Regions from separate parts of the Homo sapiens genome. Here region 2 is linked to region 1. The links come from fine-mapping of genetic effects on gene expression. A gene starts in region 1. The other region holds a variant in brackets. All regions are shown on one strand. Distances are between the middles of the regions. Region 1 holds the start of SULT4A1 (sulfotransferase family 4A member 1). Region 2 has its middle 9.8 kb from the start of PNPLA5.

What was found. PIP is the estimated chance that this variant, and not a neighbour inherited with it, causes the effect. A credible set is the group of variants that fine-mapping cannot tell apart.
Region 2: its variant is the best candidate, but not a certain one, in a credible set for the expression of SULT4A1 in fibroblasts (GTEx, PIP 0.51).

The regions. Positions count from the first base shown.
Region 1 is chr22:43,859,560-43,864,929 of GRCh38, reverse strand. SULT4A1 (sulfotransferase family 4A member 1) reads left to right here and starts at 2,417. Exons shown (of 7, transcript NM_014351.4): 1 at 2,417-2,716. The coding sequence starts at 2,548. RefSeq lists an enhancer at 4,102-4,601.
Region 2 is chr22:43,899,099-43,904,468 of GRCh38, reverse strand. No RefSeq gene overlaps it. Among named protein-coding and RNA genes, the nearest start is that of PNPLA5, 9.8 kb to the right of the region's middle. The variant A/C (reference allele first, on the strand shown) is at 3,072.

The sequences.
Region 1 (5,370 bases):
GGTAACCTTGAGTCTGCTCCCAGTCAACCCTCTTTCCAATGCCCCAGGTTAAGACTATTCTCACCTCTATCACTATAGATCAGTTTTGCTTGGTTTTGACTGTATATAAATAGAATCATATGACATACCATTTTTTGTGCTTGACTTAGTTTGTTCATCATTTTGACTGTGACATTCTTCTCAGTTACATTCCTTTTTTAAAAAAATTACTGTATTCCATTGTATGAATATATCGCAATTTATCTATTCTACTGTTGGGTACGTGGGTTTTTTCCCATTTTTGTCTAACATGCTCAAATTGTTTCCGATTTGACCTATGATAATACTTTCATGTTATACCCTGTGTCCTTCTGACCTATTCCCAACATTTTTGAACTTGCAGGAGTTCAAGACTCAACAAGACATTTTAGGCTCATCTTGTACTTTCCTTGCCCTGGAGTTGGCTTTTTCTCCAAGAAACCCCAGGTTCATTTGGTGAGGGAAGTATTTAGCAAAGATCTGGGCAGTGGGTATGCCTAGTATTATTGAGATATCACTGCCTAAAGGCTTTTCCAGCAAATATAAGAAATAGGAATTTTAAAATATCATAAACTCATGTCAATACCTCCAATTCCAATCCAATACCATAGAGTTCTTCCCTGCCTTCTCGCATTCCCCACTTACATTTTCCTTCTCCCACAGTGAGAACCCTCACCTGAAACATCAGGATATTCATTCATTCACTCAATCCCTCTAGCTTTTGGCTAGATGCCCTTTTGCCATTGGCCTAATTATTCTGAATAAAGGCTGGGTGCTCGGAATGTCCTCTTTCTTTTTTGGAAAGACATCTACAAGCTTCCCAAGTCAGGATTAATTGCTGTTTCCTCTCTCTGTCTGCTATGTACACATGGCCTGCGCTTCTCAGCCCATGTGTATGTCTTTGGTGTCAGAATGCACGTGTCTCACTCTACAGTAAGAAGGAGAGAGTAGGAATAGGTCCCGTCCAGCCACTCTGCTCCAGATTCTTGTTGGTGTAAACTCCTTCCATCTTCCTGGCTACACTACTTAGAGGTAGGAATCATTCTTTTCCTTTACACAGCTGATGATGCTCGGCTGCAGAGAATGAGAGCAGGCTGTGTTGTTTTCATCTTTGTGCTTCCCCAGGCATGTTAGTAGGTGCTTCATATATGTCTGTTGAGTGCATGACTGGCAAGGGGTTGCACTGAGATCTCTAGAACTCGGTTGCTCTCAAATTATAGTTTGCACAAGAAGTGCCTTACTAAATGTATATTTTTGTAATTTTTCTCCATAGATCTGGGGTCCTGGAATTTGCAATCCAACACTCCCCTCCCCTACTCATGGGATATTAAGAAGCACTTTTTGGCTGGGCGAGGTGGTTCACACCTGTAATCCCAGCACTTTGGGAGGCCAAGGTGGGCAGATCACGAGGTCAGGAGATTGAGACCATCCTGGCTAACACGATGAAACCCCGTCTCTACTAAAACAAACAAACAAAAAATACAAAAAATTAGCCAGGCATGGTGGCATGTGCCTGTAGTCCCAGCTACTCGGGAGGCTGAGCCAGGAGAATGGCGTAAACCCGGGAGGTGGAGCTTGCAGTGAGCTGAGATCGCGCCCCTGCACTCCAGCCTGGGCGACACAGCGAGACTCCATCTCAAAAAAAAAAAAAAAAAAAAAAAAGCAAAAAAAAAGCACTTTGTTTTTTTGGCTGGACTAGGTGGCCCATACTTTTTTTTTGTTGTTGTTAGAAGATCTCGTCCTGTTGCCCAGACTGGAGTGCAGTGGTGCAAGCTCACAGCTCACTGCTAATTTTTTTTTTTGTATGTTTGTAGAGATGCGGTTTCACCATTTACCCAGGTTGGTCTCGAACTCTTGACCTCAGGAGATCCGCCCGTGCTCGACCTCTCAAAGTGCTGAGATTACAGGCGTGATCCACCGCGCCTGGCGAAGACGCATATTTTTAATAGGACCTAATATTTACCTGAAATTATCTTGGTTATTTACCAATGTAAGCTCCAACAGGGCCAGGCTTCTGCTTGCTTCTACCCTGACGCGTGTCGGGGCCCTGGCCCAGTGCCTGGCACAGATCAGCAGCGCGCTAAGCACGTGTTGAATGGACGACTACCTTTCAGGGCCTTCCAGCCAGGGTATCTCATGCGTCTGTGTTGAGCGCTTGCTGAGTGACAGAAGCTATGAGCGGAATGAACGCACGCACGACTGAGGAGGCTGCAGACCGCGGGCCAGGGTCTCTGTCAGCCCCGGCAGCGGGTGGGTGACCCCGGCCGGGGGCGGGGCGGGGAGGACGCGGCTCCGCGGCGCCATGACGTCACGCCCGTGCAGCGCCGCGGCCGCGTGCCGGGCGGCGCCATGACGTCATACCCGCGGAGCCTCCGCCGCGCGTCGGCGGCGCCATGACGTCACGCCTGCGGAGCTGCCGCCGCGCGCCGGTGGGGCGCGAGCGTGTGCGGGGCGCGGGCGCGGGCGCGGGCGCGGGCGCGTGCGGGCTGCGAGCCGGGAGGCGGCGGCGGCGACGGCGACGGCGGCGGCATGGCGGAGAGCGAGGCCGAGACCCCCAGCACCCCGGGGGAGTTCGAGAGCAAGTACTTCGAGTTCCATGGCGTGCGGCTGCCGCCCTTCTGCCGCGGGAAGATGGAGGAGATCGCCAACTTCCCGGTGCGGCCCAGCGACGTGTGGATCGTCACCTACCCCAAGTCCGGTGAGCCCCGCGCCGACCGCGCCCGCCACGCCATGCCCCAGCCCTGCAGCGCGGCCGCGTAGACGCCGCGCCCGCGCCCGGGGCTTCTGCTGGGCCGGGTGGTCGCCCTTGGCCTCCGCCCCTGCCGTGCCCACCGCTCTCCCGATGCTCGGATCCCTGCGGGGCGGGGTGGGGTGGGGTGGGGGTGGGAAGGGGCTTGGTTCTCATCTGGGGAAACCAAGGTCAGAGACCTTCGGGAGCGGCCCCTTCCGTGGAGATGGAGCCTATTTGGCCGGCGCTGCAGGAGGATGGGCCCAGGGCCGCCACCCATCCCTGCTTCTCCCTTTACCTGGCTGGCTGTGTGACCTTGGACAGGTCACTCAACCTCTCTGTTCCTGAATCCTGCCCAACCTTTGATGAGTGCAAAGTCCTGGTGTTCACCTGGGAAGGGAGATAACATGGGCGTCAGGGCTTTCAGCGTGGAAACGTAACGTCCCTCCTTTCCAGCCTGGGCTCCGGGTGGGGGATGGGACCAGTCCCCGCCTGGAGTGCCTTGCTTGTACATTCTCTTGTTTCAGGGCTGCCTCCATCACCGAGGCAGGACCTGGGGCATTCACATTTCCCAGCATTAGCTGACGTCACTTTCACAATAACAGCTGTGTGAGCTAGTGGTGGTCATTCCCACTTTACAGTCTAGGCACAGAGGCTCAGAGAGGGGAAGAGGCTGGTCCAAGGTCACTCAGCTGGTGAGTGGCTGACCTGGGAATTAAAGCTAGGCTGGTCTGTTTCCAGACCTGAGGTAGGAGATTGTATAGTACCCCATCTGAGGTTTTTAGGGAAAGGAGGTAGCAGCTTTCCTGTTCTGTAAACATGCCCTGGGATTTCCTTGTTGCCACTGTATTTGAGGCAATCACAGCGTGGTTTAGAAGGTGTCTGGCTCTAAGGTCACGCCGGACCAGCAGTCGGGCAGTTTCAGGAAAAGCTGTAGGCTTGGCTGTTGTAGCTGTATGGAGTTCCAGACACCTGAGGGCAGGTCTCTGACATTCTTCTGAGGAAGATTGGAGTAGGGACTCTCAGTGGAGGGTGTTGGTTGGAGAACAGAGCGTTCGATGGGCTGCTATCTTGAGCACATGCCAGTCGCCGCATGGGGTGGGACCTAAAATGCTTTAGGAATGGCTAAGCGTGTCGTTGGCTTCTGTGGCCACTCATTAAGTCCTGCGGGCCAAGTGCTCTATCGCTGTTAATCTGTGAGGGACTCTTACACCTTTTTTTCAGAGGCTCAGAGAAGGCACAAATTGTTCGGAGTCACACAGTTGCTGAGGGACAGAGGTCAGGTCTAGCTAGGTCTCCCGGTCCACGGCCAGCCTCTCCCCTGCCTTATGGGTGCTCCGTTGCCCTTGGAAAACCGTGAGGGCCCAAGAAGGAGGGGGACCTAGCCTTCTTTCTTGGAGGCTTTAAAATGCTGGAAGTCTCAGCCACTTAGGGATTTTGAGGTTTGTGTCACTTCTCTGAGGCCCCTCCAAGTGGACTTCTGGTAGCCCAGTTCATATTTTCTTTTCCTTTCCTTCCATCTGCTACTGGGGATGGATTTGTAGCAGGCATCAGTGCTTACACATTAAGAACCTGGCTTCGGAGTTGGAAGTCCTGGGTTTGAATGCAGTTTTGCGGCTTACCAGCAGAGTGACCCTGGGCAGATCATAGAATCCCATTGAGCTGTGGTCTCTGCGGAGGGAGAAGAGACCACCTCGGCCCGCTGATGTGTGGCTGTGAGGATGAGCAAAATGGCGGGTGAGAACGCTTAGCCCACGTCCAGACACACGCTGGAAAGGCTCGTGGTTAATGCTGACTTTTAAGCCCTGAACACCTGTTGTGCCCAGATGCTTTGCTAGGGGCTGGGGAAGCCGAGAGGGCCCCATCTGGTGCCTGTCCTTAGTGAGCTCTCAGTCTGATGGGGGAGACATGGTTGGTGCTGGGGTTGGGGCAAGTAGCCAGGACTAACAGGTGCCCCATTCACCTGCCATGGCAGGGAACCCACGGGCCTCCTTGGATTTCCAGTGCCCAGGTGTAGGAGATCCTAATGAACTTGCAGGTGGTCAGAGCCGGAAGGGCCTGGTCCCTTGTCAGCCCCTTCCCACCCTCTGCTGATGGAGAAACTGGGGTTCAAAGGGGTGGTGGGGGCTTTCTGGTGGCTAAGGCAATGATAATTAGATCCTGCCTTCGCTTCCTGTCCGGTATTTTTTCCCACAACCCCGTGCTGCTTGCTCGGATTCTTTTTGTGCTTGCGACATTCTAGCTTAGATGGCGGGTTAGGACTGTGCTCTCCAGCGTAGGACCCTCTGCCCACAGGCGGCTGCTTACATCTAATGAATTAAAATGAAATAAAAGTGGAAATTCTGTTCCTCAGTAGCATCACCATGTTTCAGGTGCTCAGTAGCCACATGGGGCTAGCGGCTGCCGTATTGGGTGGCGCAGATATGGAGTGTTCCCATCACAGCTGAAAGTTCTGCTGCACAGCGCCAGGTAAAACCGTGATCCAGACAGTAGGAGCCCATTGTGTCTTCTGAGAAGGACCTTTCTGTTGATGACCGACTTTGTTCCTATTCATTCTTACAGCGTAGTTGGTCCTGGGACGGTGGTTGTATTAAATCCGATTGTGTCTGTGAAAATATTTTGTC
Region 2 (5,370 bases), 40 kb before region 1:
AGACTCTGCTCCTCCACCTCTTGTGGAGGGCCTGGCATTAGTCAGGCTCGCCTGCAGTTATCCAGAGGCCTAACCGTCTCCCTGTGATGCTGTGCTTCAGTGGTCACGCTCCTAGTCTGCCTTCATGTTCCATCCCGTACACCTGGCTCTGCCTTCTAGATAGCAGTAGTAAATTAGTGAAAATACTAATAGTCCCTGGTATGCAGAAATAATGGTGTAAGCTGTCTTTCTCTCTGTCTCCTCTCCTTCTCTGCCTCGGCTGCCAGGCAGGGAAGGGACTCCTGTCCAGTCGACACGTGACCCACGTGACCTTACCTATCATTGGAGGTGACTCACATTCTTTACCCTGCCCCTTCTGCCTTGTATCCAATAAATAACAGCGCAGCCCGACATTCGGGGCCACTACCGGTCTCCACGCATTGGTGGTAGTGGTACCCCTGGCCCAGCTGTCTTTTCTCTTATCTTTTTGTCTTGTCTTTATTTCTACACTCTCTCGTCACCGCACACAGGGAGAGACCCACCGACCCTGTGGGGCTGGTCCCTACACACTACAGCCTCTGTCTCCTGGGTTCAAGCAATTCCCCTGCTTCAGCCTCTCCAGTAGCTGGGATTACAGGGGTGCACCACCACACTCGGCTAATTTTTTGTATTTTTAGTAGAGACGGGTTTTCACCATGTTGACCAGGCTGGTCTCAAACTGCTGGCCTCAGGTGATCGGCCTGCCTTGGCTTCCCAAAGTGCTGAGATTAGAGACATGAGCCACTGTGTCTGGCCTAGAAATACTTTTAATGAACAGAAGGAGTCCGGCCTGCGAAAACAACTCCTCCTGACCTGGTATCCACACCCAGCTCCCACCCCAGCCCTTCCAGTCCCCACCACGTCCCTCGCAAATCAGCCCTGTCTCTCCCCACTGCCTCTGCCCCCGGCTGGCCACCATGATCTCTCAGCCAATCTTTCCTTTCACTGTGCCTCTCCATAAAAGCTGCTTCAGGGCCAGGCGTCCCAGCACTTTGGGAGGCGAGGTGTGTGGATCATTCGAGGTCAGGAGATTGAGACCATCCTGGCTAACATGGTGAAACCCCATTTCTACTAAAAATACCAAAAATTAGCTGGGTGCTACTCAGGAGGATGAGGCAGGAGAATGGTGTGAACCCAGGAGGCGGAGCTGGCAGTGAGCCGAGACCACACCCCTGCACTCCAGTCTGGGTGACAGAGCAAGATTCCGTCTCAAAAAAAAAAAAAAAGCTGCTTCAGGGCCTGCTCTCAACCCTCTTCCACCCCGGTGTGTCTGCAGGGCAGGCTGGCCCCCGGGGGCTGCAACCGCAGTCCTCAGTAAGGATCGTCAGCTCTGACAGGCGACTGGGCCACGGCTGTGGGGAGGAGGAGGTATTTGAGAATCTGTGTGTGTTGGGTCGGGGGCAGCATAGGGAACACGTGGTTTGGGGAAGGTGATTCTAATGCAACCCCACCCCCTTGAAATCCAATCTTTATAACTGGAACAATTTTAGGCCGGGCACAGTGGCTGTCATGCCTGTAATCCCAGCATTTGGGAGGCTGAGGTGGCAGGACTGCTTGAGCCTAGGGGTTTGAGGCCAGCCTGGACAAAATAGGGAGACCCTTTTCTCCACAAAAAAATTTAAAAAACGATCTGGGTGTGGTGATGCGCACCTGTAGTCCCAGCTATTCGGGAGGCTGAAGTGGGAGGATCACTTGAACCCACAAGGTCGAGGCTGCAGTGAGCCATAACCACACCACTGCGCTCCAGCCTGGGCAACAGAGCCAGACCCTGTCTCAAAAACAAAACAAAACAAAACAAAACAAAATTGGAACAATTTTAGGCATACCAAAACGACTGGAATTTGTTTTCAAAATGTGGATCAGTATGTAGAAACACATAAGTAATCTTTTTATAAAAGTCTTACATTTATTTACTTATTTAACCTCAAACTTTTGGCCTCAAGAGATTCTCCTGCCACAGCATCCCAAAGTGCTGGGATCATAGGCATGAGCCACTGGGCTCAGCCTGAAAAGCCTCACATGCATTTAAAGTGACCTGGAGTCATTTGTGATGAGCAAAACAGATGCCTCTTAGAGAAACCATGAAGAGGGACACAGGGCAGCTAGAGACCAGACCAGCCTTAAGGATGCATCTTCCCCTTGAGACCAGGACCCCTGCCGCACCGGCAGCAAGCTGGGTGCAATCCACTGGGGAGCCCTGGACTGCTGCCCAGGCTTTCTGAGGCGCAGGCAGAGTGGAAATGGCTGGCCCTCTTTCTGGCAGAAAAGGCAGCACCCGGAAATGAGCATTTAGGCTGAGCCAATGGGCAGGGGCAGATGTCAGATTTCAGGTTATCCCACAGAGCAAGAAACAAGCAGCTGCTCCCAAATAAAGAGCAGCAGGAACTTGAGCCTGCTAGGGGAATTTCTAGCCTCTAGAAATAGTCCTGAGGTGGGGTAGGGTGCCTGTCACCCAGAGAGGAAAGTGGGGCAAGAGACCCCGGTGGCTTGGCTCGGAGCTGGGGCTCCACAGATGCCCAGGACCAGGGAGCAAGGGTCGGCTCCTGAAGGTCATGGGGAATCAGAAGCCAGGCTGGGATCCACGCTGCATTTGTGTGACCTGAGCGCAGTGGTCCTTGTGTGAGAACAAGTGGATACTCTCAGATGAGTTTTTTCTTAAGAGCACAAGTGAGAACCGGGGTTGCAGGAAACACAAAGGGGCTCCAACCTCTGCCAAGCACTTGGAAGAACACAGAAGCTGAAGGCTGTCCTTGGTGGGCTGGTCCACAAATAATCCAGTGGGGAAATGGGGGAGAGAGAGGGTGGTCCAGTTGGAAGGCTACAGCACCAGCAGGCACTCATGTTGAGAGGGAGGGTGGCTGGACCATGGAGCAAAGACCGGGTCAGGATTGAGGAAGGAGCATTGGCGGGAGGTGGCCACCAGCCAAGGGTGAGTGAGAAGGCATCAAGAGCCTCTCTCAGCCAGGCGCAGTGGCTCACACCTGTAATCTCAGCACTTTGGGAGGCTGAGGCAGGCGGATCACAGGAGATCAGGAGGTCGAGACCAGCCTGGC[A/C]AACATGGTGAAATCCCATCTGTACCAAAAATACAAAAATCAGCCAGGCATGGTGGCAGGTGTCTGTAATCACTGCTACTTGGAAGGCTGAGGCAGGAGAATCACTTGACCCTGGGAGGTGGAGTTTGCAACGAGCTGAAACCGTGCTACTGCACTCCAGCCTGGGCAACAGAGCAAGACTCTGTCTCAAAAAAAAAAAAAAAAAAAAAAAAAAAAGCCCCTCTCAGGTGTCTGCCCTGGCAGGGTGACAGGTACTCGTGGGTTTGGTGACAAGGTGATGGCAGGGTGACAAGGCCCTGGTTCCTGCTCCCACTCCTTAGCTGCCTTTGTCTCTCCTGTGGCCTCCTCTGCCTGCTCACTGGGCCACCAAGCCACGCTATGGCTTGTCCAGCACCCTGGCCAATGCCAGGCTTGGCACCTCCCCCACTGGGTGCCGTGTCTCTTGGCAGCCCGGGTTCCAGGGGTGGTCTGTCCATACAGCCCTTGGCTGGTTACCTGGAGCCCCCCAGGCCCACCCCTACCCATGATGGGTACCCAGAGAGTGCTGGAGACAAAGCTCCTGGGCAACTTTCTCCCTGACTGTGTTGCTGGCTGGCTCTCGGCCCTGAGAGGGCTCTGCTGGGGGCTCAGTCCCCATCCCCTCCTCCTTGTCTTCCAAGCCAGGAAGCTTTATTTTCCCCCTCCAGGAGGATGGAGCCCAGGCTTCATGGGGTGCTCCTATCTGAGCTCAGGTTCTGTGAGGGGCCTAGTGGCTTCCAGTTCCCTGTGCAGGGGAGTGTGGGGTGCGCACAGAAAGGAAAGCACGATTCTGGAACCACAGGGCAAGTGTGACTGGAGGGTTTCTGACCCCCCCGTTCTGATCCTGGCACTGACATTTCCTGGCTGCTGGGCCCTGGGTTATTTACGCAAATTTTCTGAGTCTCAGCTCCCTGTTAAGCGGGGGTGATATGCCTGCCACTCAGCAGGGGTGTCGAGGGTTAAGTGCTCTCTGGAGCTGAGTCCTCAGAAGGCACCAGGAGCTGGTGGCTTGGTTATTGTCATGATTGGCAGCTGGAGGTAGAGCAACCTGCTGTGGGAGACAGTCACCATCCCCATGTCCTGGGACGTGACGGCCACTGCTGTGCCCAGCACCTTTGGCACATCCCTCATCTCATCCTCACAATTGCTCAGGGAGAGGTGGCCCTGAACACCTCCATTTCACAGATGGGAAGACTGAAGTGCTGTCTTAGTCGGTCTTCTGCTGCTATCACAGAAAACCTGAGACTGAATCATTTATAAAGAAAAGGGACTTATTTAGCTCACGGTTCTGGAGGCTGGGAAGTTCAAGACTGAGGAGCCACATCAAGTGAGGGATGTCTGGCTGCATCATAACATGGCACAGGGAGAGGAAGGGAGAGCAAGACAGGCCGGACCCACAGGATAATGGCTGGAGTGCAATGGCGTGATCTCAGCTCACTGCAACCTCCACCTTCCAGGTTCAAGCAATTCTCCTGCCTCAGCCTCCTAAGCAGCTGGGATTACAGGCACCTGCTGCCACGCGCAGCTAATTCTGTTGTATTTTTAGTAGGGATGGGGTTTTGCCATGTCAGCCAGACTGGCCTCAGACTCCTGACCTCAGGCGATTCACCCAGCTTGGCCTCCCAAAGTGCTAGGATTACAGGTGTGAGCCACCACACCCGGCCCTGATTACCTCTTAAAGGTCCCATGTCTTAATACTGTCACAATGGCAATTAAATTTCAACCTGAGCTTTGGAGGGGATACAGTAGGCACAGGCACAGCAGGGTCAAGTGACTTGTTCAAGGTCTCTGACCTGGTCAGTGGCAGAGCTGAGATTAGAAACACGTCTGTCAGTTTGCAAAGCCCATGCTGACTGCCTGGCAACACAGCCACCCAAGACAGGCAAGGAGAGGGCTTCCGGGGCCAGGGGAAGGAGACAGCCCACCCAGAGCCCTTGTGCAATGCTTTCTGGCACAACAGGGCCTCCTGAAAAGACAGGTGGCAGCCTGGGGCACAGACTGGAGCCACTCTGCCTGCCAGTTCCCAGCTGGGTTAACCTGGGCAAGTTGCTTCATCTCCCTGGGCCTCAGTGCGAAATGCAGATAATCCAAGCACCTCACCTCCTGAGTTGTCATGAGGTAATCAGCTAATGATTAGAAAGTTACTTCACCTCCACTGGGCGCAGTGGCTCATGCCTGTAATCCCAGCACTTTGGGAGGCCAAGGCGGGCAGATCATGAGGTCAGGAAATCGAGACCATCCTGGCCAACATAGTGAAACCCCGTCCCTAATAAAAATACAA